4 linked regions of the Homo sapiens genome follow. The protein of the gene in region 2 interacts with the protein of the main gene of each other region in a pairwise test. Each region holds a gene or a part of one and is shown on either strand. Other genes may lie near its edges. The genes, in order: MMD, ATP13A1, CXCR2 and MANBAL.

The links.
Region 1: the proteins of ATP13A1 (region 2) and MMD interact in binary tests that used the Homo sapiens proteins (3 or more experiments, as listed by UniProt).
Region 3: the proteins of ATP13A1 (region 2) and CXCR2 interact in binary tests that used the Homo sapiens proteins (3 or more experiments, as listed by UniProt).
Region 4: the proteins of ATP13A1 (region 2) and MANBAL interact in binary tests that used the Homo sapiens proteins (3 or more experiments, as listed by UniProt).

The regions. Positions count from the first base shown.
Region 1 is NC_000017.11:55,411,793-55,418,835, reverse strand, and holds part of MMD (monocyte to macrophage differentiation factor), read left to right. Parts: intron 1-4,603; coding exon 4,604-4,685; intron 4,686-7,043. UniProt on the Homo sapiens protein: Involved in the dynamics of lysosomal membranes associated with microglial activation following brain lesion.
Region 2 is NC_000019.10:19,660,672-19,667,926, reverse strand, and holds the start of ATP13A1 (endoplasmic reticulum transmembrane helix translocase), read left to right. Parts: upstream 1-4,250; 5' UTR 4,251-4,260; coding exon 4,261-4,656; intron 4,657-7,255. UniProt on the Homo sapiens protein: Endoplasmic reticulum translocase required to remove mitochondrial transmembrane proteins mistargeted to the endoplasmic reticulum.
Region 3 is NC_000002.12:218,121,531-218,129,027, forward strand, and holds the start of CXCR2 (C-X-C chemokine receptor type 2), read left to right. Parts: upstream 1-4,497; 5' UTR 4,498-4,823; intron 4,824-7,497. UniProt on the Homo sapiens protein: Receptor for interleukin-8 which is a powerful neutrophil chemotactic factor. Binding of IL-8 to the receptor causes activation of neutrophils. This response is mediated via a G-protein that activates a phosphatidylinositol-calcium second messenger system.
Region 4 is NC_000020.11:37,313,614-37,317,762, forward strand, and holds the end of MANBAL (protein MANBAL), read left to right. Parts: intron 1-2,694; coding exon 2,695-2,802; 3' UTR 2,803-3,647; downstream 3,648-4,149.

The sequences.
Region 1 (7,043 bases), on a different chromosome or scaffold from region 2:
TAGCTTCAAAACTGGATATGTGGGAAAGCATTTTAATCTACAGTATTAGAAGTCTTACAGGGCTACCTATTGTCTTTTTTCCCATGTTCTTAAAGCACTAAATCATAGGCATGGGGTAGTCTCCTTATATATGCCATCTTCCTTTATTTAATAATTAAGTCAAGATTGGCACTATTGACAGTAGACACTTTTCCTGAACAAATATGCTCAGTCATAAAGGGGAGCTAATAGTAAGAGGGGTCCACTTATACGTTGCAACATAAATGATGTTGAAGGGGCCCTTGGAATATCCGTTGTCTTGGATTTTAAGTGTTTTTGTGTGTGTGTGAGATTCGGGGTTCTCTTGGTTCCAAGGCTGCCTGTTTCTCTTACTTACAGAACCTGCTGTGTCCACAGTAAAACTAATTGACTATGGGATATCTTTGTTAAGACAAAATAGTTCAGCAGTAGCTGGAATGTCTTTCTATTCATTCAACAATTATTAAGCTCTAGCAATAAGCTGGGCATTGTACTTCAGTTTGGTAATGGAAAGGTGAACAAGACAGCCTTCATGGAATTCACACTACAGTGGGAAAAGATGAAATAAAAAATAAGCTAAAACAAATCAAAGTCTTACCAATTGTGACATAGGGCTCTGGTTGGATGGGGAGGGTTGAAATGATACTTCAGTTAGGATAGTCTGGAAAACCTCTCTTGAGGAGGTGACATCTGAGCTGAGCTGAAAGGATGAGAAGAGAGCTGAGCATTCTGGAGAATATCCTAGACAGAAGTAAACAGCAAGTACACATGCCCAGAGGCAGACACAACCTTGATGTGTTTAAGGAGCAGAAAGGAGGTGGTATAGCCAGAGGATGGAGAGAGAGAAAGATGCCACCCTGAGACTGGAGGGGTAGTGAGGCCCAGACCACTCAGGGCTTGTGGGCCTCTGAACACTGTGTTACAGTGCTATCGTAAGCACTTTGGGAAGCCAGAGGCAGACTTTAAGCTGGGATTGGGGTGTGTGATGTGATCTGGGTTTTTTGTTGTTGTTTGTTTTTGAGACAGGGTCTTGTTCTGTCACCCAGACTGGAGTGCAGTGGTGCCATCACAACTCACTGTTGCAGCCTTGACCTCCGAGGCTCAAGCAGTCCTTCTACCTCAGTCAGAAGTAGCTGGGGCTACAGGCATACACTACCACACCTGGCTAATTTTTACATTTTTTTTTGTGTGTAGAGATGGGATCTCACTATACCGCCTAGGCTGGTCTTAAACTCTTGGGCTCAAGCAACCTCCCGCCTCAGCTCCCCAAAAGTGCTGGGATTACAGGTGTGAGCCACCATGCCCAGCCCCTCATCTGTTTCTAATGGAAAACTGTAGCTGCTATGTAAAGAAGAGAGTCTGTACTGGGTCAAGCAGGAAGACTAGTTAAGAGACTTTGTATTTGTACAGACCTGAGATGTTAGGTCTTTATTTAAGGTAGGAGACGCGGAGCTGGGATTACAGGTGCACACCACCACACCAGGCTAATTTTTGTATTTTTGTAGAGATGGAGTTTCTCTATGTTGGCCAGGCTGGTCTTGAACTCCTGACCTCAAGTGATGAGGTGGACTTATTTGAAATATATTTTGAAGGTAGTGTTGATGGTACTTGCACTCGGAGAATGAGGAACACTTGTGGGATTTGATCTACTGAGATCAGCCTCTGAGATCTGCTGGTGGGTTGCAGATCTACTCAGTGGGCACAGTGCTTTAGGTTGAATTTAAAGTGTGTTAGTGTGCTAAGGAGTGTTCCCAGGTCTCTGATCTGTTCTTTCCCTCCATGGTTTTGAAATTCTGTCATGGCATGGGAGAGGGGTATGGGGGAAGGAGGAGGTGATAAGAACGTTGGGCAAGGGGGAAGGCAGGAGAGTTTTGAAAGAGAAAGTGAAGGAATGAGTAAAAAAACTCTGCCTAACTAGTAGCTTTATTAAGTGCAGCTCCCACTCCCAGGACTGAATCACCTTCCTTCAAACCCTCTAGAGCTTGTTGGTTACTCAAGCATTGAGTAACCATTAGGGCCACTCCGCTTTAAATAGAGATGTCTTCCATAAATGGATGCTGTTTTCCATAACCAGCACTTGAACCTTTCCCATTCTTTTTTCGGGGAAGAGATGAAGGCCAGAGTGTGGGAGTTGATTTACATTTTACATCTGCTTTTCCATTTAGGTTTTAGGAGTGATTTCTTCAGGAGGCTGTGGAGGAGGCTTGATTGCACCCTGGCAGGTTAGAGAGAAATGGGAAAATTGTATTGTACTTTCCCAGCAGAACAATTATGCTGTCTATCCTACTGAGCCCCAGATTTAGAGAATTGCTTCCAGGATAGTTACCCTTATCTTTCCCTATTGCCCGTGTCTTACCCTGTGCATCAGGATAGAGTGCCTTAAGTCACCATGGGTGGGATATTTTTCTGTATAACTTTCTACTTTTATTTTTTAATGTGAATTATTCCAGGTGATCAGGGACTAAGCTGTCACAAACATGGCCATCCAGTTTATTTGTTTTTAGGAGAAAATGTGAAAGTCTATCCCTGTTGCTGGGTAATGGCTTGACTATTTTTAGATTGGGCTGCCAGAGATATAAATTGCTATTTTAGTCTGCAGCCTGGTGGTGGGTAGACAAATCCTACTTACTGCACCCTACACAGAGCACATTCAATTTCATCTAACTACAGCCATCTTGGGGCCTTGCTCTTTAGCCTTGAAAATTCCTAATAGGGTATGCTACTTATAGCTCTGTTGTTATGTCTCAGGACAATGATGTGGTATATCCTCCAATTCTTGGGACACTTTTAAAGCATTCTTCCCAAGAGTGTAATTATTTTCTTTTTTGCTAATAAGAGCTGTATAGCAACACTCTTGTCTCTTAGGAAATTAGTAAAATTATTTAAAATATTATCAGGGGAGAAAAGATGATGCTTAATAATAGTTAACTATATTTGAGAATAGCTTGGATAAATTTTGAAGCTACTAACTGTATATTTCTCTTTAACAGTTGGTTTTCAAACCATCTGGTAGATTATACTCAGTAAGTACATATTTTGTACACTAGTTAAATATCTTAACCCATCAGTGGGCCAAGTGAAATATCTTCACTGTCCCAAATTCATTCCCCAGTGGATTTTCCACCTGAACTATCTGTATTGTGTTAATAGTGGCTGCCACTTTATTTTTATTTATTTGATCTAACGATAACAGGCTCTTCCTAACTCAGGGAAAGAGTATTGGCTGGTCTTTTATTAATAAACTTGGCACTCTCTAAAATGGCTTGGTCATGCGTTTTAGCCAATTTTTGGCAACTTGGTTCTACCATTTGGTTCAGCCCTGTACCATTTTTTATTTTGTGTATGAATAAGGTAATGAGTAGTTAGAACTCATTAGTGGCACAAAATACCAACCCCCAACCCCCATTCACACTTCTTTAAACTAGCTTGAGCAAAAGGATTATTTATTGTGCAAAGCCTGTTGACGTCTTACAGACTCTTAAGCACAGGAGTGCAGTGGACCTCTGCAACCTGAATGCTGTTGAAATTTTTTTTTTTTTTTACGTCCGTCTGTTTCTGTGCATCTACCTCTTTCTTCTTTTATTCAGACAGCTGCTTTTTTCTCTCCTGAGAAAAAAAGGATTAATTAGACTAATCCAGAGTCCCTCATGAAACCTGTTGTGGGTATGGGTTGGGTTTTTGGTGGGGAGGGCATCCTCACTCAGCATACTGAAATGGAAGAATGCTATCCTCTCTTTAGGTTCTGTGGTATTCATGCTTTTCTCTGTACTACTGATGGTCACAAAGTTAGCCTAAAGGGAAGTGCGGAATATGGGCATATGTCTATATATGTAACAGATTTTGATATTTAGATACGTACACACATTTGTGTGTATATATGAATTTTATAGCCAAAAGAATCAGGTAGTAGTCATGTGTTTGGTTTTTGAAGCAGACTTTTTGATTTCAGGAAGAACAAAGGTGAAAACATACCTCCGGTTTTAAGTTGCCTAGAGGTAGCCAGGTGTCATTTATTTAAGCTGTCTGGTAATACAATATAGGGAAACTAGTGGGACAGGCCTGTTAATCATGGGATGTAGGGTTTAAAGATGTGCCTATATAAAGCTTTATAAATTTTAAGAGAGAAAATAGAAACTTTGTTTTTCAAATGTAGTGTATCCCTTTTCACTAAATGACAATAAAATTTAGAAAAATTCGTTTTTTTTTTCTAGTTGTACCGTGTGTGTGTGTGTGTGTGTGTGTGTGTGTGTGTGTGTGTGTGAATGGAGGAGGAGGGTTCCAGTTGAAGGGGTGGATATGGTTTCTCTTTGCTTTTGGTTGTAGAAGTTTGCTTTTGGTTATGGAAGGTTTTTCTTTTGAATAAACTGAAAGAAGGCTTAATCTAATAAACTAGGGTATTTGCTTAAGGATCATTGCTATTGGCTCAGTTTACTCCTCTTTAGTGGCTTTGGCTTTATTACCGCAACTGGGTATTTCCACCAGTCACTTCTTTGCGTAGAATAGACCACATACCCACTGGTGGGTTTCCTCATTGTTCTTCACACACTTTGAGTTTTTCTTACATGTGTTCTTTTTGTTTTTACAGGTTCATGAACCATCGAGCTCCAGCCAATGGCCGCTACAAGCCAACTTGCTATGAACATGCTGCTAACTGTTACACACACGCAGTGAGTACAAGTTTTCCACCATTGCCATCCTTTCCACGGGGCTTTGGTGGGAGGAAGGGGTAGTTATCTCTAGTAACCTCAGCACAATTAGTTGGATTTACCCATCTGTGACCTTATCTACCAGGAAATCAGTTCTGGGTCGTGTCACCAGAAACTATGTAAGCATGTAGAATGCTTTGTGTGTTCTAACCTACAGTCAGCTCTGTCCTGGATTCGCTTTCTCCAACAAGATATTCTTTAAAGGAATAATAATAGTATGTACCCTAGTTATAGAAAAACCAAAGACACCTATTTATGAAGACTGTCACCCCTAGAATGAAATGAATCGCCTTTTCAAGACAATCAACTGTGTTCATTTGGCAAAGAGAGTTCACAGTTTGTTGAAAAAGATGCTTTTTAAAATTAAGTGATCCTCTGAAATGGGGAGGGGAGCCATAGCCTCCCACTCCTACAGTGGCCATTGCTTCCCAGAGGAGATGTTATTCCATATTGGTGAAGAAAAAGCCGATGTGATCCCTAAATTTTTTGTTAATTTTTTTCTGCTTTGTAAAAGCAAAACATGCTTATTATAAGAAACTTTAAAAATACTGAAAAATATATAAGAAAAACAAAACTAACCAGAAATAAACTGTTAACACTTCGGTGCATTTCTTTGTGTGTGTGTTTGTGTGTATGTGTGTGTGTATATGTGTGTCTCTGTGTTGGGGGTGTTTGTGAATATGTATGTATTTTCAGTTTTCCTGTTAATGTGACATTAATGGCATTTCTTATGTCATTATAAATTTTTTACTTTACCTGTGGTTTCATTATTCCCTTGCATTTAGTGACATTGAGGGAAAAATAGTGGCTGGGATACAGTCTGAAAACAAGAAATAGAGAAAAGACCAGTTTGCTTCTTTAACAATGAGTGTTTGGAACAGGCTAGTTTAACTGTGGTAGTCACTGTTGGTACAATACAATGGTTCAGATATTGAAACACACAGCTTACCTTTAGGAATAATATTTACTCGGATGAACCTGAATAAACCTTAACTTGTCTCTTCTGAGTGTGTCACAGGTTAAGGAACACTTGTGTAAACTTAAGTAAAGGGAGACCTGACAAAACCCCCATATTAATTTTTTTAGAACAGAAAATATAATCTTATTAAACCGTATCTTGAATTTTTGGATTTCAGGGACCAGTAATATTTCTAACACAGACAAAACACCCCTATTGTCATCATTTCATTGAAGAGAAGATACTTTAACATGAAAAGTAGTAAGGACATGATCTCAAGATAAAGGGCATTCCTTTAAATGAAATACATTTTGTTTTATGAAAAACTTTATTGTACTTAAATGTACTTAAATCCTCTGAAATAGGAAGGCGAGCCATAGACTCTCACCCCTACAGTGGCCATTGCTTCCCGGAGGAGATGCAATTGTATTTAATGTTCTAATTTTGCTTGGGCCAACGAAAACTTCAGCATCTGAAAAACTCATGCCAGTCTCATCTAGGGGATTTAATAGTCTGTTGCAAGGTGACAAATGTAGGTTTGGGGAGAAAAAAGATAAGCAAATTGCTAACATTTGTATTCTTTGTCAAGTATGCTTACTCTAATATCTAATAAAGTAGTTTATTCTCCTGGGAGCTTCTGTCATTGTAAGATGTTTACTAGTCATAGTCATACACATATGACTAGACATTAAAGTTTGTGACCATGTGGACTATGAAATATGATGCAGAAAGCAAATCTCTCTAAAATTCTCAAGATTTTTTGAATAGGTGGGCCTTGGAAATGGTTTGCTCTTGCTTACTTAAAAGGCTCTGTTAAAAATGAAGTGACCCCAAAACTCTTACATTCTGCAGTAGCTCTCAAATTGGTGGAATGTACAGATCCAAACTGAAAATCAGGGTATATAACTTCAACAACTGACTTTTTGTATGTGTGTGTTGCTATGTACATTATAATACCTATTACTTGATTTGTTCAATTATCCTGTCCTGAAATATTGAGATTTCAATTGCAATAGGACAGATATTTTAAAATGAGGACCTCCCTGAAAAATCTGAGTATATGCTTGGCTGTTTTTTGAAATGGGGTCTCACTCTGCCTCCCAGGTTGGAGTTCAGTGGTACAATCATGGCTCACTGTAGCCTCAACCTTTCAGGCCCAAGCAGTCTTCCCACCTCAGCCTGCCAAATAGCTGGGACTACAGGTGTTTGCCACCATGCCTGGCGAATTTTTTAAATTTTTGTAGATACAGAGTCTTGCTGTGTTGCCCAGGCTGGTCTGGAACTCCAGGGCTCAAGCGATTCTCCTGCCTCAGCCTCCCAAAGTGCTGGGATTACAGTCATGAGCTACCACACCCTGCCTG
Region 2 (7,255 bases):
TTTTAGTAGAAATGGGGTTTCACCATGTTGGCCAGGCTGGTCTCGAACTCCTGATCTCGTGATCCGCCGGCCTCGGCCTCTCAAAGTGCTGGGATTACAGGCGTGAGCCACCGCGCCCAGCCGCCTCCTGCTTCTTTTTCCGGAACACCGGTCACATGAGTGTGCACGGAATTCCAGACTCCGTGTTCAGTGAAGCCATCCCTCCACCTTGGAGCTGGAGAGACTCCCAGGTCACAATGGAACAGGTAGGAGGCCCTGATGTCCTCCAGAGATCAGGAATTTATGAGGCTATTGGTCCCATGGCCAAGGCTTCCTACACGTTACTTCTTCTCAGGCTACTCCTTTTCAGCCAAGAAAATAAAAACATGCCTTAAAGGGAACAAAATTATTAAATGCAGGGAAAAACTGGAGTAAACCACTTTTTTTTTCTTTTTTTTTGAGACGGAGTCTGGCTCTGTCGCCCAGGCTGGAGTGCAGTGGCACGATCTCAGCTCATTGCAACCTCTGCCTCCCAGGTTCAAGAGATTCTCTTGCCTCAGCCTCCCGAGTCCGAGTAGCTGGAACTACAGGCATGTGCCACCATGCCCGGCCAATTTTTTTTTTTTTTTTTTTTTTTTGTATTTTTAGTAGAGACGGGGTTTCACCGTGTTAGCCAGGATGGTCTCGATCTCCTGAACTCGTGATCTGCCCGCCTTGGCCTCCCAAAGTGCTGGGATTACAGGCATGAGCCACCGTGCCCGGCCTGGAGTAAACATTCTATAAAGGTATTGCTACCAGAAAGGGGTCCAGTCCCAGACTCCAAGAGCAGAAGCTTGGACCTTGTATGGGAAAGAATTAATATTGGAGAAAAAACTGAAAAAGTAAGTATATCGAACTGTATCATGGGACAGAAACATGTCATTCCTATTTTTACTGAAGATTATCTTATTTGATACTATGTGATTATTAAGTCCTATTACATTTCCTTTCTCCTTTTACGAAGTCATGTATCTTAATAATATGCAGCCGGGCACGGTGGCTCAGCCTGTAATCCCAGCACTCTGGGAGGCCCAGGCAGGCGGATCATGAGGTCAGGAGTAGGAGACCAGCCTGCCCAACATGGTGAAACACCGTCTCTACTAAAATTACAAAAATTAGCCAGGTGTGGTGGCGCATGCCTGTAATCCTAGCTACTAAGAAGGCTGAGGCAGGAGAACTGCTTGAACCCAGGAGGAGGAGGTTGCAGTGAGCCGAGATCACAGCATTGCGCCTGGGCGACAGAGCATGACTCCATCTCAAAAAAAAAAAAAAAAAAAAAAAAAAAAAAAAAAAAAAAAAAACCAGAGCCGGGCCCGGTGGCTCACGCCTGTAATCCCAGCACTTTGGGAGTCCGAGGCGGGTGGATTACGAGGTCAGGAGTTCAAGACTCAGCCTGGCCAAGAAGGTGAAACCCCGTCTCTACTAAAAATACAAAAAATTAGCTGGGTGCAGTGGCAGGCGCCTGTAATCCCAGCTACTCGGGAGGCTGAGGCAGGAGAATCGCTTGAACTCCGAGGGCAGAGGTTGCAGTGAGCTGAGATCACGCCACTGCACTCCAGCCTCCAGCCTGACAACAGAGTGAGACTCCGTCTCAAAAAAAAAAAAAAAAAAAAAAACCAGAATATGCAGTGGGTGGCCGCAGCGGGTCACACCTGTAGCACTTTGGGAAGTCGAGGCAGGCAGATCTCTTGAGGCCAGGACAGGAGTTCCAGACCAGCCTGGCCAACATGGTGAAACCCTGTCTCTCCTAAAAATACAAAAATTAGCAGGCATGGTGGTTCATGCCTGTAATTCCAGCTACTAAGGAGGCTGAGGCAGGAGAATCATTTGAACCCAAGAGGCAGAGGTTGCAGTGAGCCTAGATTGCAACACTGCACTCCAGCTTGGGCAAGAGTGAGACTCCGTCCCAAGAAAACAAAACAAGACTAGGACTGGGCACCGTGGCTCACACCTGTAATCCTAGCACTTTGGGAGACTGAGGCGGCCAGATCATTAGAGGCCATGAGTTTGAGACCAGACTGGCCAACATGGCGAAACCCGTCTCTACTAAAAACACAAAACATTAGACTGGGAGCGCTGGCTCACACCTGTAATCCTAGCACTTTGGGAGACCAAAGTGGGCGGATCACAAGGTCAGGAGTTCGAGACCAACCTGGCCAACATAGTGAAACCCCATCTCTACTGAAAATACAAAAAATTAGCCAGGCATGGTGGCACGCGCCTGTAGTCCCAGCTACCCGGGAGGCTGAGGCAGGAGAACCGCTGGAACCCAGGAGGCGTAGGTTGCAGTGAGCTGAGATCGCACCACCGCACTCCAGCCTGGGCAACAGAGTGAGACTCCGTCTAAAAAAAAAAGTACAAAAATTAGCCGGAGCGGTGGCATGCGCCTGTAATCCCAGTTACTTGGGAGGCTGAAATGGGAGAATCGATTGAACTCGGAAAGTGGAGTTTGCAGTGAGCGGACATCGCGCCACTGCACTCCAGCCTGGGCGACAGAGTGAGACTTCATCTCGAAAAATTAAAAAAAGAATATGCAACAATATAAGCTACAAAATTTAAATATCCAATAAATTTTAAGTTTAAATAAATTTGCTGTATCAGAGGACAAAAAGAAACATAAAATAGTTACTGTTTGTCACACATACTGTTTAATCCTACTAATTGGTACTGTTAAGTAGTCCTATTGTGGTTTTGTTCAAATAGCATTTATGCAACAGTACAGTTAATAATATAGAACTATATAATTTCTTTTTTTTTTTTTTTTCAGACAGAGTCTCGCTCTGTCGCCCAGGCTGGAGTGCAGTGGCGCGATCTCGGCTCACTGCAAGCTCCGCCTCCCAGGTTCAGGCCATTCTCCTGCCTCAGCCTCCCGAGTAGCTGGGACTACAGGCGCCTGCAACCACGCCCGGCTAATTTTTTGTATTTTTAGTAGAGACGGGGTTTCACTGTGTTAGCCAGGACGGTCTCGATCTCCTGAACTCGTGATCCGCCCGCCTCGGCCTCCCAAAGTGCTGGAATTACAGGGGTGAGCCACCGCGCCCGGCCTAGAAGTATATAATTTCAAGTAAACACCAGTTTTTCATTTTTTATGTTAAAGTGGTAATTTCTTTTTTTTTTTTTTTTTTTTTTTGGAGACAGAGTCTCGCTCTGTCGCCCAGGCTGGAGGGCAGTGGCACAATCTCCGCTCACTGCAAGCTCTGCCTCTCCAGTTCGCGCCATTCTGCCTCAGGCTCCGGAGTAGCTGGGACTACAGGCGCCCGCCACCACGCCCGGAGAATTTTTTTTTTTTTTTTGTATTTTTAGTGGAGACGGGGTTTCACCGCGTTAGCCAGGATGGTCTCGATCTCCTGACCTCGGCCTCCCAAAGTGCTGGGATTACAGGCGTGAGCCACCGCGCCCGGCCTAAAGTGGTTTTTGTAATTCATTTTTCTTTTTTTTTTTTTTGAGACAGTCTTGCTCTGTTGGCCAGGCTGAAGTGCAGTGGAGCAATCTTGGCTCACTGCAACCTCCGTCTCCCGGGCTCAAGCAATTCTCCTGCCTCATCCTCCCGAGTAGCTGGGATTACAGGCATGTGCCACCACGCCCGGCTAATTTTTGTATTTTTAGTAGAGACGTGGTTTCACCATGTTGGGTCTTGAACTCCTGATCTCAGGTGATCCACCCGCCTCGCCTCCCAAAGTGTTGGGATTACAGGCGTGAGCCACCGCGCCCGGCTAGTATTTGTAATTCTTATCTATCACATTAAGGCTCTTGTCCGGTGTGGTTGTGTTCCGGGGCGGTCCCCGACCCCGCCCCTCACAAGCCCCGCCCCCCGCACCGGGCCCCGCCTCCTGAACTCCGAAGCTCCCGACCCCGCCTCCGCAGGGTCCAGGCTTCGCCCCTGGTGACAGGTGGTGCTGGTGTAGTCAAGGAGGAGGGCTCGCTTTTTTTGGTTCAGGTTGTCATGGTGGCGCCCAAGCCCGCCTTGCCGGCCTTGTCTTTTCCGGTCTCAGTCCGGCGTGGCAGCGGAGGCAGGCACCGTTAGGTCTTCCAGTCCCTCTCTGTCATGGCGACGCCCAGCCTCTTCTTCCGGCCACAGCCTGTCATGGCGGCACCCGAAGTAGTCCCTGCCGGGGCCAGCCTGTTCTGTTGCCCTGGCTCTTCCTAGTCCAGGCTGCCATGGCGGCGCTCAGGGCTTACCGGAAGTAAAACTTCGGAAGTGAGGCGTTCCTCTGCCCGGAAGTGAGCGCGGCGCTAGGAAAGATGGCGGCAGCGGCGGCGGTGGGCAACGCGGTGCCCTGCGGGGCCCGGCCTTGCGGGGTCCGGCCTGACGGGCAGCCCAAGCCCGGGCCGCAGCCGCGCGCGCTCCTTGCCGCCGGGCCGGCGCTCATAGCGAACGGTGACGAGCTGGTGGCTGCCGTGTGGCCGTACCGGCGGTTGGCGCTGTTGCGGCGCCTCACGGTGCTGCCATTCGCCGGGCTGCTTTACCCGGCCTGGTTGGGTGCCGCAGCCGCTGGCTGCTGGGGCTGGGGCAGCAGTTGGGTGCAGATCCCCGAAGCTGCGCTGCTCGTGCTTGCCACCATCTGCCTCGCGCACGCGCTCACTGTCCTCTCGGGGCATTGGTCTGTGCACGCGCATTGCGCGCTCACCTGCACCCCGGTAAGTGTGTACACGCGAGCCCGACCCCCAGCACGGTCGAGCCTCGCCGTGGGTCCCAGCTGCGGCCTTCCTGTCGGTCACCATCGCGACCTGGGCCACTCATCTGCCTGGCCTGGATTCCCAGGGGCACCCTCTACACTTTGGCGCAGGCTTAATCATGACCCCACTGCTGACTTGCTGTGCATGCCTGGTGCGGGTTATTTCCTTTTTCTGAAGTCCTCCCTGTTATGGTCATTTAGATTCAGTGATGTAATACTTGTAAAAGGCTTAGCGCAGGGCCCAGCATACGTCGCCCAGGTCAGGTAGGAGTTGTTTATACTAGTTCCCATATTAGCGACTACTCTTGTTCTGGAAACGGCCCTACCTTCCATCTCATCTGTCTCCTACCTTGGTTTTCAAAGTGTAAGGCGAGATCACTGGGATAGGTTTCCCCCATCTATGAAGCTTAGTTGGTTCTTAGACTGAACCAAGTCTTGCTGTCCAGTGCTTAGTGGTCTTCCATACTGTGATGGAAAGGAGCATGAAATGCAGTTAATTACAGTGTTGAAGAGAGGCAGAGGTGTTTATGAGCGAGTCATTTACATGATGTCTTTCCGCAAAATGAGGGTGGTGATACTGAGTTCTGTCGGGGATACAACAGCAAGCAAGGTCGCGCTCCTGACCCACAGTTTAGAGTTCTGAGTGACCAAGTGTCGTCGGAGGAGTTGGTGACTGTGAGCTTCCCTGGGCCTGAAGCAGTGACTGTGTCGTCTCTCTCTGGGCCTGCCTCAGGTGACACCAGCAGGTTTGGAGCCATGGACACTGAGGTATATCAGGAAGCTTCCCCTCTGATTCCAGGAGTGTGTTTGCCTCAAGAAGAGGAAAAGGGAACAGCATCAAGGGCTACAGAAAGACAGAAGCCCCCCACCCTGGCTGGCTCTGAATGTGGGTAGAATCCTCATTCTCCTCTCCTGAGAGACAACCTGTTCTGTCCTTCAAAAAGACTTATCTATCCCAGGGGAGGAGCTCAACGTGGTAGCTTTGAGGTAGTACAATGAAAGACACCAATGAGGGACAAAATAAAGGAGGGGTTAAGGGGACTGTGGCACCGCTCAAACTTCAGCTGCCTTTTGACCTGCAGCTAAGCAGCTTAGCTCTTAACTTCCTCTCCAGGGATGGAGAAGTGGGAGGAGCTGAACAGCCATCAGCCAGGAGAGGTGGATCTGGGTTTGATTCAGATCTCAGAAAGGGCCGCTTCTGCTCTCTGAGTTTCAGTTTCCCCCTTCTGTAAACTGAGAACCGTAACTAACAACTACTGGGTGCCATCTTGAGAAGCGGAGATGATATCTGCAGAGTGCCCGCCCTGGGGCCATCACAGCGTATAGCCTCTTGTACCTTTCTTCCGTGACGTCACGTTTGTAGTTATGTGATTGTTGTTATTTGCTGCCTGCTTTGGAGGCCCATGAACCACCCGTGCGGTGGCGCTTTGTTTCTGCGGGTCATCATTGTGCTCCCCCCATCTCCATGCAGCTCGTCTCCATGCAGCTCGGTCTAGCAGAGCAGCAGAGGAATGGATGGCGGTTCACGGGGTCCAGGGAGCACTGAACGAGTTCCATTCAACATTTCTGTGTCTTAGGTGCTGGGGAAACAGCAGTGAACAAAACAGGCAAATCCCCCTGCCTTTGTGGTGTTACTGGGAGGGAGAACTCATAGTCAGCAGTTGATGCCAAACAGAGATGACATCTAACATCAGGACAGGATGGGACATTGCCGGGAACTTTAGATGGGGCAGCCAGGGAGGGGCTCCTGAGAAGGTGATGTTTCAGCAAAAGCCTGAGGCAGCAAGGGAGCTGTGTGACTGTGTATTCCGGGCAGAGAAAACAGCACATGCCAAGGCCCTTTGCTGAGGCACGATCGAGCCCCATGTGCGTGTGGAGCTGTGGAGTGTAGTGAGCAGGGTTGGTGGAAGAGGCAGAGCTGAGCAGGAGGCCGGGGGCCTGTGATGGGGCGGGGGCTTGGCTCACGTGAATTGAGGACGTACTGGGTGGGTGCCTGGCAGCGTTCTTCCTATTTGAGTTCATGTCACCTTCAGCAGAGCAGAGCCCTGGGCATTAGGTGCTGTCTGTGCACCCAGCTTCCCAGCTTTTTTTGTTGTTGTTTTTGTTTTTGTTTTGTTTTTTGGGGTTTTTTTGTTTGTTTGTTTGTTTGTTTTTGAGATGGAGTCTGGCTCTGTTGCCCAGGCTGGAGTGCAGTGGCACAATCTCGGCTCACTGCAACCTCCGCCTCCCAGGTTCAAGTGATTGTTCTGCCTCAGCCTCCCGAGTAGCTGAGACTACAGGTGCCTGCCACTATGCCCAGCTAATTTTTATATTTTTAGTAGAGACGGGGTTTCACCATATTGGCCAGGCTGGTCTCAAACTCCTGACCTCGTGATCCCCCCTGCCTCAGCCTCCCAAAGTGCTGGGATTACAGGTGTGAGCCACTGCACCCAGCCTTTTTATTTTGAGACAGAGTCCTGCTCTGTCGCCCAGGCTGGAGTGCAGTGGTGCAATCTCGGCTCACTGCAAGCTCTGCCTCCTGGGTGCACGCCATTCTCCTGCCTCAGCCTCCCAAGTAGCTG
Region 3 (7,497 bases), on a different chromosome or scaffold from region 2:
TGGTCTCGCTGACTTCAAGAATGAAGCCACGGACCCTTGCAGTGAGTGTTACAGTTCTTAAAGATGGTGTGTCCAGAGTTTGTTCCTTCAGATGTTCAGATGTGTCCAGAGTTTCTTCCTTCCGGTGGGTTTATGGTCTTACTGACTTCAGGAGTGAAGCTGCAGGCCTTCACAGTGAGTGTTACAGCTCTTAAAGGTGGTGCATACAGAGTTGTTTGTTACTCCTGGCAGGTTCGTGGTCTCACTGACTTCAGGAGTGAAGCCGCAGACCTTCACAGTGAGTGTTACAGCTCATAAAGGTAGTGCAGACCCAAAGAGTGAGCAGCAGCAAGATTTATTGTGAAGAGTGAGAAAACAAAGCTTCCACAGCATGGAAAGGGACCCGAGCAGGTTGCCGCTGCTGGCTCAGGTGGCCAGTTTTTATTTCCTTATTTGGCCCTGCCCATGTCCTGCTGATTGGTCCATTTTACAGAGTGCTGGTTGGTCCATTTTTACAGAGTGCTGATTGGTGCATTTACAAACCTTTAGCTAGACACAGAGCACTGATTGCTGTGTTTACAATCCTTTAGTTAGACAGAAAAGTTCTCCAAGTCCCCACCCGACCCAAAAATCCAGCTGGCTTCACCTCTCAATGTGAGTTAGTGTTCTATTCATCATATTAGTTGTTACCTAGATACTTTGTTTTTTTCATTGTGTTATTGTTTTATAGGCCCTGTGAGATTTATGCTTTAAGGAAGTTCTAATTTGGTGCACATAAAGCTTTTGTTTAAATATTTAAAACTCTTTTTAGCATTTCTGATAATGCTGGTTTAGTAGTGGCAATTTCTCTCAGCATTTGTTTGTCTGAAAAAAGACTTTATCTCTCCTTCATTTATGAAGCTTAGTTTTGCTGGATACAAAATTCTTGGCTGACAATTATTTTGTTTAAGGAAGGTAAAGATAGGACCCCAATCCCTTCTGGCTTGCAAGGTTTCTGTGAGAAATCTGCTGTTAGTCTGACAGGTTTTCCTTTATAGGTTACCTGATGTTTTTGTCACACAGTTCTTAAAATTCTTTCCTTCTTGTTGACTTCAGATAACCTAATGACTATGTGGCTAGGTGATAATCTTTTTGTAATGAATTTCCCAGAAGTTCTTTGAGCTTCTTATATTTGGGTATCTAGATCTCTAGCAAGGTCAGGGAAGCTTTCCTCAATTATTCCCTCAAACACGTTTTTCAAACTTTTAGACTTATCTTCTCCCTCAGGAATACCAATTATTCTCAAGTTTGGCTGTTTTACATAATTTTATATTTCTTGGGGACTTTGTTCATTTCTTTTGGTCTTTTTTTTTTATCTTTGTCTGATTGGGTTAATTCAAATGCCTTGTCTTTAAGCTCTGAAATTTTTTCTTCTAATTGTTCTAGTCTATTGTTGAAACTTTCCACCACATTTTGTATTCCCTAAGTATGCTTTCATTTCCAGAAGTTTTGATTAGTTTTTCTTTACGATATATACCCTCCAGAAATTTTTTCATTCATATCCTGAATTGGTTTTTTTAAATTTCTTTATGTTGGTTTTTACTTTTCTCTGGTATCTCCTTAAGTAATTAATGATCAACCTTCTGGGCCGGGCACAGTGGTTCACATCTGCAATCCCAGCATTGTGGGAGGCCGAGGCAGGCAGATCATTTCAGGCCAGGAGTTCGAGACCAGCCTGGTCAACATGGTGAAACCCCATCTCTACTAAAAATACAAAAATTAGTTGGGCATGGTGTCACATGCCTGTAATCCCAGCTATTCAGGAGGCTGAGGCAGGAGAATCACTTGGGCCCGGGAGGCAGAAGTTGCAGTGAGCCGAGATCACACCATTGCACTCTAGCCTGAGCAACAAGAGTGAAAATCTGTCCCAAAATATTATTAATAATAATAATAACAATAATAATAATAATAATAATCAACCTTCTGAATTCTTTGTCTGGTATTACAAAAATTTCATCTTGGTTTGGATTTATTGCTGGAAAGTTAGTGTGATCTTTTGGGGGTGTTACAGAACCCTGTTTTGTCATATTGCCAGAATTACTTTTCTGGTTCCTTCTCATTTGGGTAGACTATTTCTTCAAGTTATTCTTGAATTTATTTTTGATTTGACTTTTTTTTTTTTTTTGAGATGGAGTTTCGCTCTTGTTACCCAGGCTGGAGTGCAATGTCTGATCTCGGCTCACTGTGACCTCCACCTCCCCGATTCGAGTGATTCTCCTGTCTCAGCCTCCCGAGTAGCTGGGATTACAGGCATGTACCAGCACACCCGGCTAATTTTGTATTTTTAGTAGAGACAGGATTTCTCCATGTTGGTCAATCTGGTCTTGAACTCCTGACCTTAGGTGATCTGCCAGCCTCAGCTTCCCAAAATGCTGGGATTACAGGCGTGAGCCACCACGCCCAGCAACTATGTTTTTTTTTTATTTCTTTTTCTTCCCTCTTAAGGATCTGACTTTAATATTTATAGTTTATTTTAGCCTAATTTGATCCTTGGTTTTTAGGAGTGAAGACTTTTGGATTTTAGGAGTGAAGACTCTGTATGAGTTCGTTAGTTAGAGACAGTCCTTGTGTGCTGGCTTTCCCAGATCCTGGTTGTAGCAGTTACGTACTTGGTGTGTGGGAAGGTTTACTGTCTCCTACAGGGTTGGAATGGCAGGAATCTCTTTAAGCTTACCTCATTCTCTCGTGGGGTACTCTTTATTTATTTATTTAATTTTTCCCCAGTATTTTACTTACTGAGTTGATTCAGGCTTTGGACCAGTAGGGGAAGTATCCCTGGGTAGGCACCAGATGTAGCTAAAGTAGGTGGGTAGGCACCGGTTGTAGCTAAAGCAGGTGGGCAGAGATCCCAGCCTTGATGAGAGTGCCTGGGAGAGCTCTCAATTAGATGTGCTGAGGTTTTGTCAGGGTGAAGGGTAGGAGCTACCTCAGGTCCCCCACTAGGCCAGCTGGAAAGCTATCCACCTCCCAGCTTCACTCCTTTCCCAGTGTTCCAGCTATTCAGATCAGACAGGCAGTTATTTTCATCTGTAGAAATGTTGATGTTCCAAGTAGAGAGGAATTGTGACTGCCTGTCATGCAAACCTGAATCTGGGGAGTGCTCCTCCCGTGGGGATGCAATCACCCTGATTTGTTCCAGGAAGGCTGTCTATAGGTGCATCAATGCTGCGTTCCTTTGGGAGAAGCCCCAGCTCTGTCTGCAGTGGCGTACCAGGGGGAACAAGGATCCCTTCTCTAAGACCCTTCACAATACCAGAGGCTGCCTGCCTATTGGGTAGAGGTGCAAACTTTCCCCCACTCTGCCCAGCACAGCAATTGTCTCTGCAATAGGAAACTTCCCACCAGTGAAAAGATCTGGGACTCAAGCCCTGCCATTCAGATTCTTTTGTTCCACAGGGTATTCCCTTGATGTGATGTTCTTCCCCTTCCTCTAGGAATGGGACTTCCTGGAAGCCAGACTACAGTGCTCTTCTGGGTCTAGCCACCCAGTGGGCCTACCAGACTCTGGGCTGGTGCTAGGGAATGTCTGCAAGGGATCCAGTGGTGTTACCTGTCTTCAAGACTCCCAGCAGTGAATACCAGCACCATCTCTGACAGAAGTGGGAGGGGAGTGATGCAAACTCTGCAAGATTCCTTGGTTGTAGATAGACTTAGAGTATTGACTTTCTCAAATGCTGGTTATAATTATAGTGAACTTATCACGTGGACAGACGCAGGACTTCTGGTTAGCCAGGGTGTTGTAAGCAGTGGTGATAGCTGAGAATATGCAGCCGTTTTCTCCTTCCTGGGTACAGTGCTATTCTGCCTAGAGGTGAGTTTTTGCCTGTCTCACAGAGTAGGCTGCAGCCTGCCACTTCTTTCAAAAGTTCTGTGGATTCTTTCAGCTTTCCTGTTCAGTTCCTGCATTCGTTCCTGGAGAAAAAAAAATTATAGTGTGAATCTCTACACGCTATTCTGTCCTTCCAGATGGGAGAGGCATGCTAATGCTGCCTCCAATCTGTTGTCTTGGGGGGAAAGAAAGCAATTTGTTTTTGTTTTTTTTTTTAATGGATTTGCTGGGTTTAGTAACCCAGAGGTCATTGGGAACCTTGGCGAAAGTTATTTCAGTGGAGCAGTAGGAAGGAAGCCAGTTGCAGTGTCTTTGTTGAGCAGCAGAGGGGAGGTGAGGAAGTGGAGAGAGCAGCTGTGGTGGCTGAAGGGTGCTAGGACAGAGGGAGCATGATAAAGCCATAAGTAAGATGTGGTAGAAGGGAAAGAGCCAGGACAGAGGGGAGAGAAAGCAGGATCCTCAAGGACCAGAGAGGCAGTGGGTCCCACAGTCAGGTGCGGGGATTCAACAGAAACAGAAGGAGGGACGCTTCTCACTCTGACCCCGGAAAGAAGGAAGAAACTGCGTGCGAGTTCAGACAAGTCCGTTGGCGGGGGCTGGGATGCCTGCATCTTCCTTGTTAAAAAAGGAAGTGCAGGTTCAAAACATTCAGAGACAGAAGGTGGATAGACAAATCTCCACCTTCAGACTGGTAGGCTCCTCCAGAAGCCATCAGACAGGAAGATGTGAAAATCCCCAGCACTCATCCCAGAATCACTAAGTGGCACCTGTCCTGGGCCAAAGTCCCAGGACAGACCTCATTGTTCCTCTGTGGGAATACCTCCCCAGGAGGGCATCCTGGATTTCCCCCTTGCAACCCAGGTCAGAAGTTTCATCGTCAAGGTTGTTTCATCTTTTTTTTCCTGTCTAACAGCTCTGACTACCACCCAACCTTGAGGCACAGTGAAGACATCGGTGGCCACTCCAATAACAGCAGGTAGGTGACTTGTTCAGTCTGAGATGCTGGCAACATATTTCTAATGGAAGAGATCTGGAAACTTCAGCCTCCTCTGAGGCCCCTGAGAACTGGGGTGATGAAGTGTAGAAGCTTAGAGCTAAAGACAACTAAGTCTTCACCTAGACAGTGTTGCACAAAAGAATTTTCTGCAATAATAGAAATGTCCTAGACCTGCCCTGCCCAGTATGGTAGCCACTAGTCACACGTGGCCACGGAGCACTTGAAATGTGACTAGTGTGACTGCGGATCTCAATTTTTATTTCATTTTATTTTATTTTATTTTTTCTTTTTTGAGACAGGCTCTCACTCCAATGCCCAGGCTGGAGTGCTGTGGCATGATCTTGGCTCATTGCAACCTCAACCTACAGGTCTAGGTGATTCTCCCACCTCAGCCTCCCAAGTAGCTGCAGCTACAGGCATGTGCCGCTACACTCAGCTAATTTTTTGGGTTTTGTTTGTTTGTTTGTTTTGTTTTTGTTTTTGTAAAGACAGGGTTTCGTCATGTTGCCCAGGCTGATCTCAAACTCCTGGGCTCAAGCGATCCGCCCACCTCGGCCTCCCAAAGTGCTGGGATTACAGGCATGGGCCACCTTGCCTGGCCTTTATTTTAATTAATTTTAATTTAAATAGCTACACATGGCTAGTAGCTAGCATGCTGAACAGAATAGAATTAGAAGAAGCTCCCGTTTTCCAAAGGCACACAACAAGGCCCAGAAAGAATGACTTCTCCAAGCAGGATTAGAAGCCAGGTTTTTGTTTTGTTTTTGTTTGAGACAGGGTTTTGCTCTGTCGCCCAGGCTGGAATGCAATGGCACAATCTCGGCTCACTGCAACTTCTGCCTCCCGAGTTCAAGCAATTCTTATGCCTCAGCCTCTGGAGTAGCTGGGATTACAGGCGTGCGCTGCCACGCCTGGCTAATTTTTGCATTTTTAATAGAGGCGGGGTTTCACCATGTTGGCCAGGCTGTTCTGTAACTCCTGGCCTCGAGTGATCCACTCACCTCAGCCTCCCAAAGTGCTGGGATTACAGGCATGAGCCACCGCACCAGAAGCCAGTTTTTTAATTCACTCCACCCTGCATATAACCGCAGTGATCTCCATGGAAATGAAATTGACCTAAGGAGCATGAAGAAGGAGGCTGACTGGGAAATGTCAAATCTGGGCTCCCCTCTCTACATCCTTTGTATCTGACTTTCTGGGACACAGGGAGGTACCTAATGGAGCTCAGAAACTTTAGGCTGGGATCCTGCTCCTTATTACAGTGAACAGGAGATAGGATTTGAGAGCAGATTTTTAGAAGTTTTTTAAACTGAAAACCTAGTTCAGCTGTGTCACTCTAGGTATGTTGCTTAACCTCTCAGAGTCTTCATTTCCTCTTCCAGAAAGTGCCTGCTTCGTGAGGTTATCCTGAGGATTAATTGATACAAATTCTGGAAAGCACTTTGCCCAGAAGCTAGAACCTGGTAGACACTCAACATTACAGCTAATATGACAATTAATATCCAGGTCAAAGTAAATTAGATGTCATCAAAGTCAGCCTTGAAAGCAGACCCACTGCCGACTGCTTTCCCTTGACTGGGGATGTAGTGAGAGAGGCAGCATGTTATCAGTGAATAAACTATTCCAGTAATAATGATCACAACAATAAAGGTTAACATTGTACTTTATGTATGTTTTACGTGATTTACAAGCAATCCCTCATTTCATCCTCACCACAACCCCATGAGTTGGATTCTGTATTGGCCCCATTTTACAGATGAGTAAACTGAGACTCAGAAAGGAAAAGTCACTTGCCCAGAATTGCTCAGCTAGCCCTGGTGTCATCTGCCTCTCTCCATATGTAATAAGCCTCTATCTGGTTTTAGCATCAACTGGCCAGGTGGCATTGCATTCTTCCCCAGCTTGGGAAAGAGAGGTGACAAAGACTAAGAAACATTTGCTGAACAGTTGGACTCAAAGATTCTTTCTTTGGGGTAGGCAGGCAATTTAAGTGCGTCTGCCACAGGGATTGAGTCCCCTCTGGGCCCTGGGATGCATGGAGCAAGAGATAGGGTAAGGAATAATGGAGGGGATTGAGGTGTTGTTCACTGGGGTGGGCACTTGTGAGACAGCAGAATTAGTGTTCATGGCTCTGCCTGGATTAATTCATTCATTTGTAATCAATAGCAAATTGATAAAATACATTCTTAGGGTCACTTAACATTGTTTTTAAAAATGCATTTGGACTTTGGTGGAATCTTCCCTTTTACCAAAAGGCTTTCTTTCCAAATTAGAGGGTCTTGGCTCCAAGGGTGGTAAGCTGCTGCAGAGTTGGTGTCCTCAGACCCAATGCCAAGTGTGCGAAACAAGAAAGAATATCAATACCCAGAGATGGACTTGTGGTCAGAGCAGATGGTTGGGGAGTGAGGGGAAAGACAAGAGGCAGGAGTGGGGCCAAGAAGTAGAGGCATCAGGTCCAGGGAGGAACGCCACCAGACTCACCAGAAGCTTTAGTCCATCTCTGTCATTTTAATGCACTGCTCCCTTTGACATGTGAAAGACATTGAAGGCTATAGTACTGCCAATGGTATGATGGGGAAGCCTGAGGCAGCTGGAATGCCAGGAGACTCAGACAAGGCAGCTGAAGGAGCCAGCGGCTCTGAGATACAGCAAA
Region 4 (4,149 bases), on a different chromosome or scaffold from region 2:
GAGAATCACTTGAACCTGGAAGGCGGAGGTTGCAATGAGCTAATATCGAGCCACTGCACTCCAGCCTGGGCAAAAGAGTGAGACCTTGTCTTAAAAAGAATGGTGGCATTATAAGGTTCCTGGGTGCCTAGGGGCCCGAGGAGGGAGGAGGGGCTGCCCCCAGCTGGAAGGAGGAGCAGGGAAGGAAGGCTAGACAGTGAGTAGGAGTGTATTCATGGACAGGGCCAAACCATGGGAGCAGTTTGCCGGGTGGCCAAGGAAACAGGTATTCCTGTTGATGAAGGTGACCAGCGGAAGCTCTGGGGCCTGACTCAGTGTGAGGGATGAAGAGGAGCCCATGTGAGGCTGGAGAGGTGGCCTTTCTTAGATGCCATTCCAGAGACAGCCACTGGAAGCTTTAAGGTGGAAGGTGCAGTGGTCAGACCTGCACTTTAGAATAGTTCCTTTCGTGGGTGCATGAGGAATGGACAGAGACAGCAGGCACTTTGCTTAGCTGTGGGCGGAACTGAAGGGGGAATTGGATGCTGGAGAGAGTAGCAGAATCAAGAGGTAGAGGGGGTCATGTCAGCAGGACATGGTGACCCACTGGACAGTGGGGAGCAGAGAGAGGGTGAGGTTACCGGGTCTCTGGTTGCTCCACCAGTGGGAGGAGGGCCGGGCCTTCTGGGTCTGGGACAGTTAAGTTGGAGGTGCCTTGGAGATGCCAGTCCTGATTGTCTGGCAGACAGCTGGATCAAGGGAGAGGTCTGGGAGGTGCCAGAATGGTTGAGGCTCTAGAGACAGGGCCTGTGGAGTGAGGGAGGCACTGGGGCGGCAACTGGGTCTCACTGTCCCTGTGGTCTCTGAACTGAGCCCCACTGAAACTGGAGGAGCCCCCAGCCTTGAGCTCAGAAGGCAGACTCCTTCCTAGAGATCCAGGCAGGCCTTGCAAATTTTGTTTTGTTTTGTTTTGGCCAAGTTACATAAACAGAGTAGGGGGACCTTCAGATCATTTTGATTTTTGGTGGGAGGAGGCTCAGCAGGCCGAAGGAATCCAGCACTGCAGTGAGAGGCCTGGCTGGGGAGGGGAAGCCCTCCAGTTATCTTGGGACAATCACTCCTTGGGGGCCTGGGACCTGGCTGGCTCTTCATATCTGGTTATCTCGCCTGGCTGATGGGAGACGATGTTGGCCGATAGGAGGGAGCTGACAGGCCTCTGGATCAGATCCGAGGCAGGGACTGCCCTTCCCTGCATGGGCCCTCCTCTTCTGTAGGGTGGGCTGAGGCTTGGGCCACGGGCCAATGGGGCAAGCAGGGAAGGTCAGGGAGTAAAGTGAGCTGGAAGCCGGGGTTGGGAAATGAAACACAGAGGGGTATTTTTCTCATCTGGAAGTGTCCCCCCTCCCAGGAGTCTTAGTCTGCTTCTTATTTTCCCATTTCTCAATAAAGAACATGGGCACTGAGAAACATTTCCCAATCATAGTGCTGGGGGCGGCAGGGTGTGGGGGCCACGGTCGGCACCTGAAAAGGGGCAGCGCCTCCTCAGCCCCTCACTGCCATGAGGGAATGCAGGGCCATTGTCACCGGATGGTTAGTTTCAAGAGAATCTAGGAATCCAGATTTCATGGGAAATCTCCCAATTGGCTTAAATTTTTAAATAAACACTGCCGGCCAGATGAAGTCTGTGGCCTGGACGAGGCCTGTGGGCTGTGGTTGGCGTTCTCTGGGCTAGCCCGGCCTCTCTGACGTCCGTCCTTTCTGGCCACGGCACACTGCAAGTTATCACCCAGAGGAGGAGAGGACACTAGATAGGAGCACACTGAGCCTATTCCAGATACTTCTCTGACATGAGCCTGAGTGGCTGGGCCAAGCTGTGTCCCTTCCCTGGAGTCTCCCTTCCTTATCAGCACAATGAACGCCAGGGCTAGATCTGTGGGTTTCAACCTTTCGTTCCTTAGCAGCAGAACTTTGTTTCATTTCAATCTTACAAGGGACAAATCACAGTGTATGAAATAGATTGAAAATCAGAGCTGCTCCTGTCGCCCAGGGAGTCTGGAATTCTGCCCCGAGGCTGCCTCTGCCCTCCCCCACAGAGGCACCTCTGACAGGCTCCGCAGAACACAGTGTGGGACTGCCCACCTGCCGGCTGGCCCTCTGCACCCCTCCCAGTCCTGGCATTCTGTGGGTTGAATGGGAGGACAAGAATGGCAGCCAGAGGAGGGCAAGCCACAGTGGGTCTGCCCCATAGCCAGCTCCTCGCCCACATTTTGTCCAGTCCCTGGCACGAGGTGATCGGCCAGTCACTGGGTGCAGCTGGCACTTCCTGGGTGCTTTCCACGTAGTTTTGCCTCCTCACATCAGCCCTGTAAGGCGGGTGTGGCTATTTCCATTTCACAGGTGAGTAAACCAAGACACAGAAAGGGGAAGTGAGTTTCACACAAGGTCAGTTGGCTGGAAAGGGAAGGATCCCAGGTTCTACCTGGGCGTCTGAGACCCCACAAGCTGCTCCCTCCCCGTGGGGCTTCCTTTATTCTTCACTGAGAGCCACGATGCTCCGGGGCAGTCCCACATCCGTGTGGGTGGTAGGTCCCGGGAATGACAGTTTCCATCTCTTGTGTTTCTGTGGCATGCTTCTTTGCTTTCAGATGTGATCTCCTTTTGCTGGCGTCAGGCTTGATCCATCTAAGCAGGACTCTCCTTTTTATCACCTCACAGGAGGCTGAACCGTCTGAGCCCAGAAGTGCTGAGGTGACGAGGAAGCCCAAGGCTGCTGTTCCTTCTGTGAACAAGAGGCCCAAGAAAGAGACTAAGAAGAAGCGGTAGAAGAGGAGGCCTGAGGAGCTGGGCGGGCAGGGAGAGGGTCTTGGGGACAGCCCTCCTGGGAATCTACATTGTGTTCCCCCGCATTCCAGGCTCAGGGTCTGAGGAGGCTGTGACGCCCTATGACCGCAGAGATCTAGACAGTCGTAACAGTCCCCAGGCTCCAGCTGGGCAATCCACCACTTCCTCTTCCTTCTGCTTCTGTGACGGTTTAGAGTCAAGGGGGCTGAAACACACTGTGAGCATAGACTGTATTAGGTTTGTTCAGAAGCCGGGTCAGCTCACAGAGTCACATTTTCTTGCTTAGTCATGTGTCCCTCCTTGAGTTGCCCCCTCCTTGTGGGTTTACACTACATTTGGGAGTCATTGTCTAATGCTGACAAGCACACCCTCTCCCATTATTTGTGCACTACAGATCTCCTCCTGATCAGTCACCTTTGTTGCTGCTGTGTAGACAGAGCCAGGCCTCACCTGTTTGTTTAGGCCAAGATGCCATGGACATGCAGCGTTAGTGATCCCACTAGCTGTGACAGCCAGGCCCAGAAAATGCCTGGCGTGAGAGCCAGCAGACAGCCAGGCCAGGGTAGGCAGTGCCTGCTTCTGCTCCATCAGGTGCAGGGGATTTGGCTGAAGGCGTGCATATTTCCTGGGCACAAACTTCCTGAGCCTCTGAAATGGGAGGCTCGTCAATTTCAGACCAACCTCTTTTCAACCCATCATAGCACGTTCAAGGTGTGCCTTTTACTTCTACCTGTACATCCCCCATCCCTTCAATTCTTTCATTCCCTGACCAGTGAGAGGGTTCCTGGGGGAAGTATGGTGAATAAACTGACATGCATGCTTCAGAACCTGCCTGTGTTGTCTTTTGCTGAGGGAGAGGGGAAGCCTAGGGCCCTGCCCCGGGGATGAGGGAAAGGCTTGACCCCCAGAGAAGTGGGACAGTGGGGGTGAGGATGGCCAGAATAGGATGGCTTCGGTAAGAGCAGTTCTGCAGGCTGAGCCATTCTGGAAGAAGTTTTCAGGAAGGATCCGGCTAAGTGCTTCGTGTGGCCCTTAGTCACTGGAAACACTTGTGAATGGCCGTGGGTGTGTTAGAGTTTCCACTGGGTCCAGGCCCCACTCATTCCCCAGGTTCCTTCTGAGGAAGATGCTGCTTGTCTTCAAAGTGGCTTGAGAAAAACCAAGTGCAATACAGTAAAAGGCCTTACGTGGCATTGGCCAGGTCTAGTCACTTGCCCTGAATCAGCTGCTGAGGAAAAGCCCTGACCTCTTGGTAACTCGGATTTGCCCAGCTCATTTACAGCCTGCCAGACAGCTTTCCCAAATGCCAGGACTGATGAGGATCTTAAG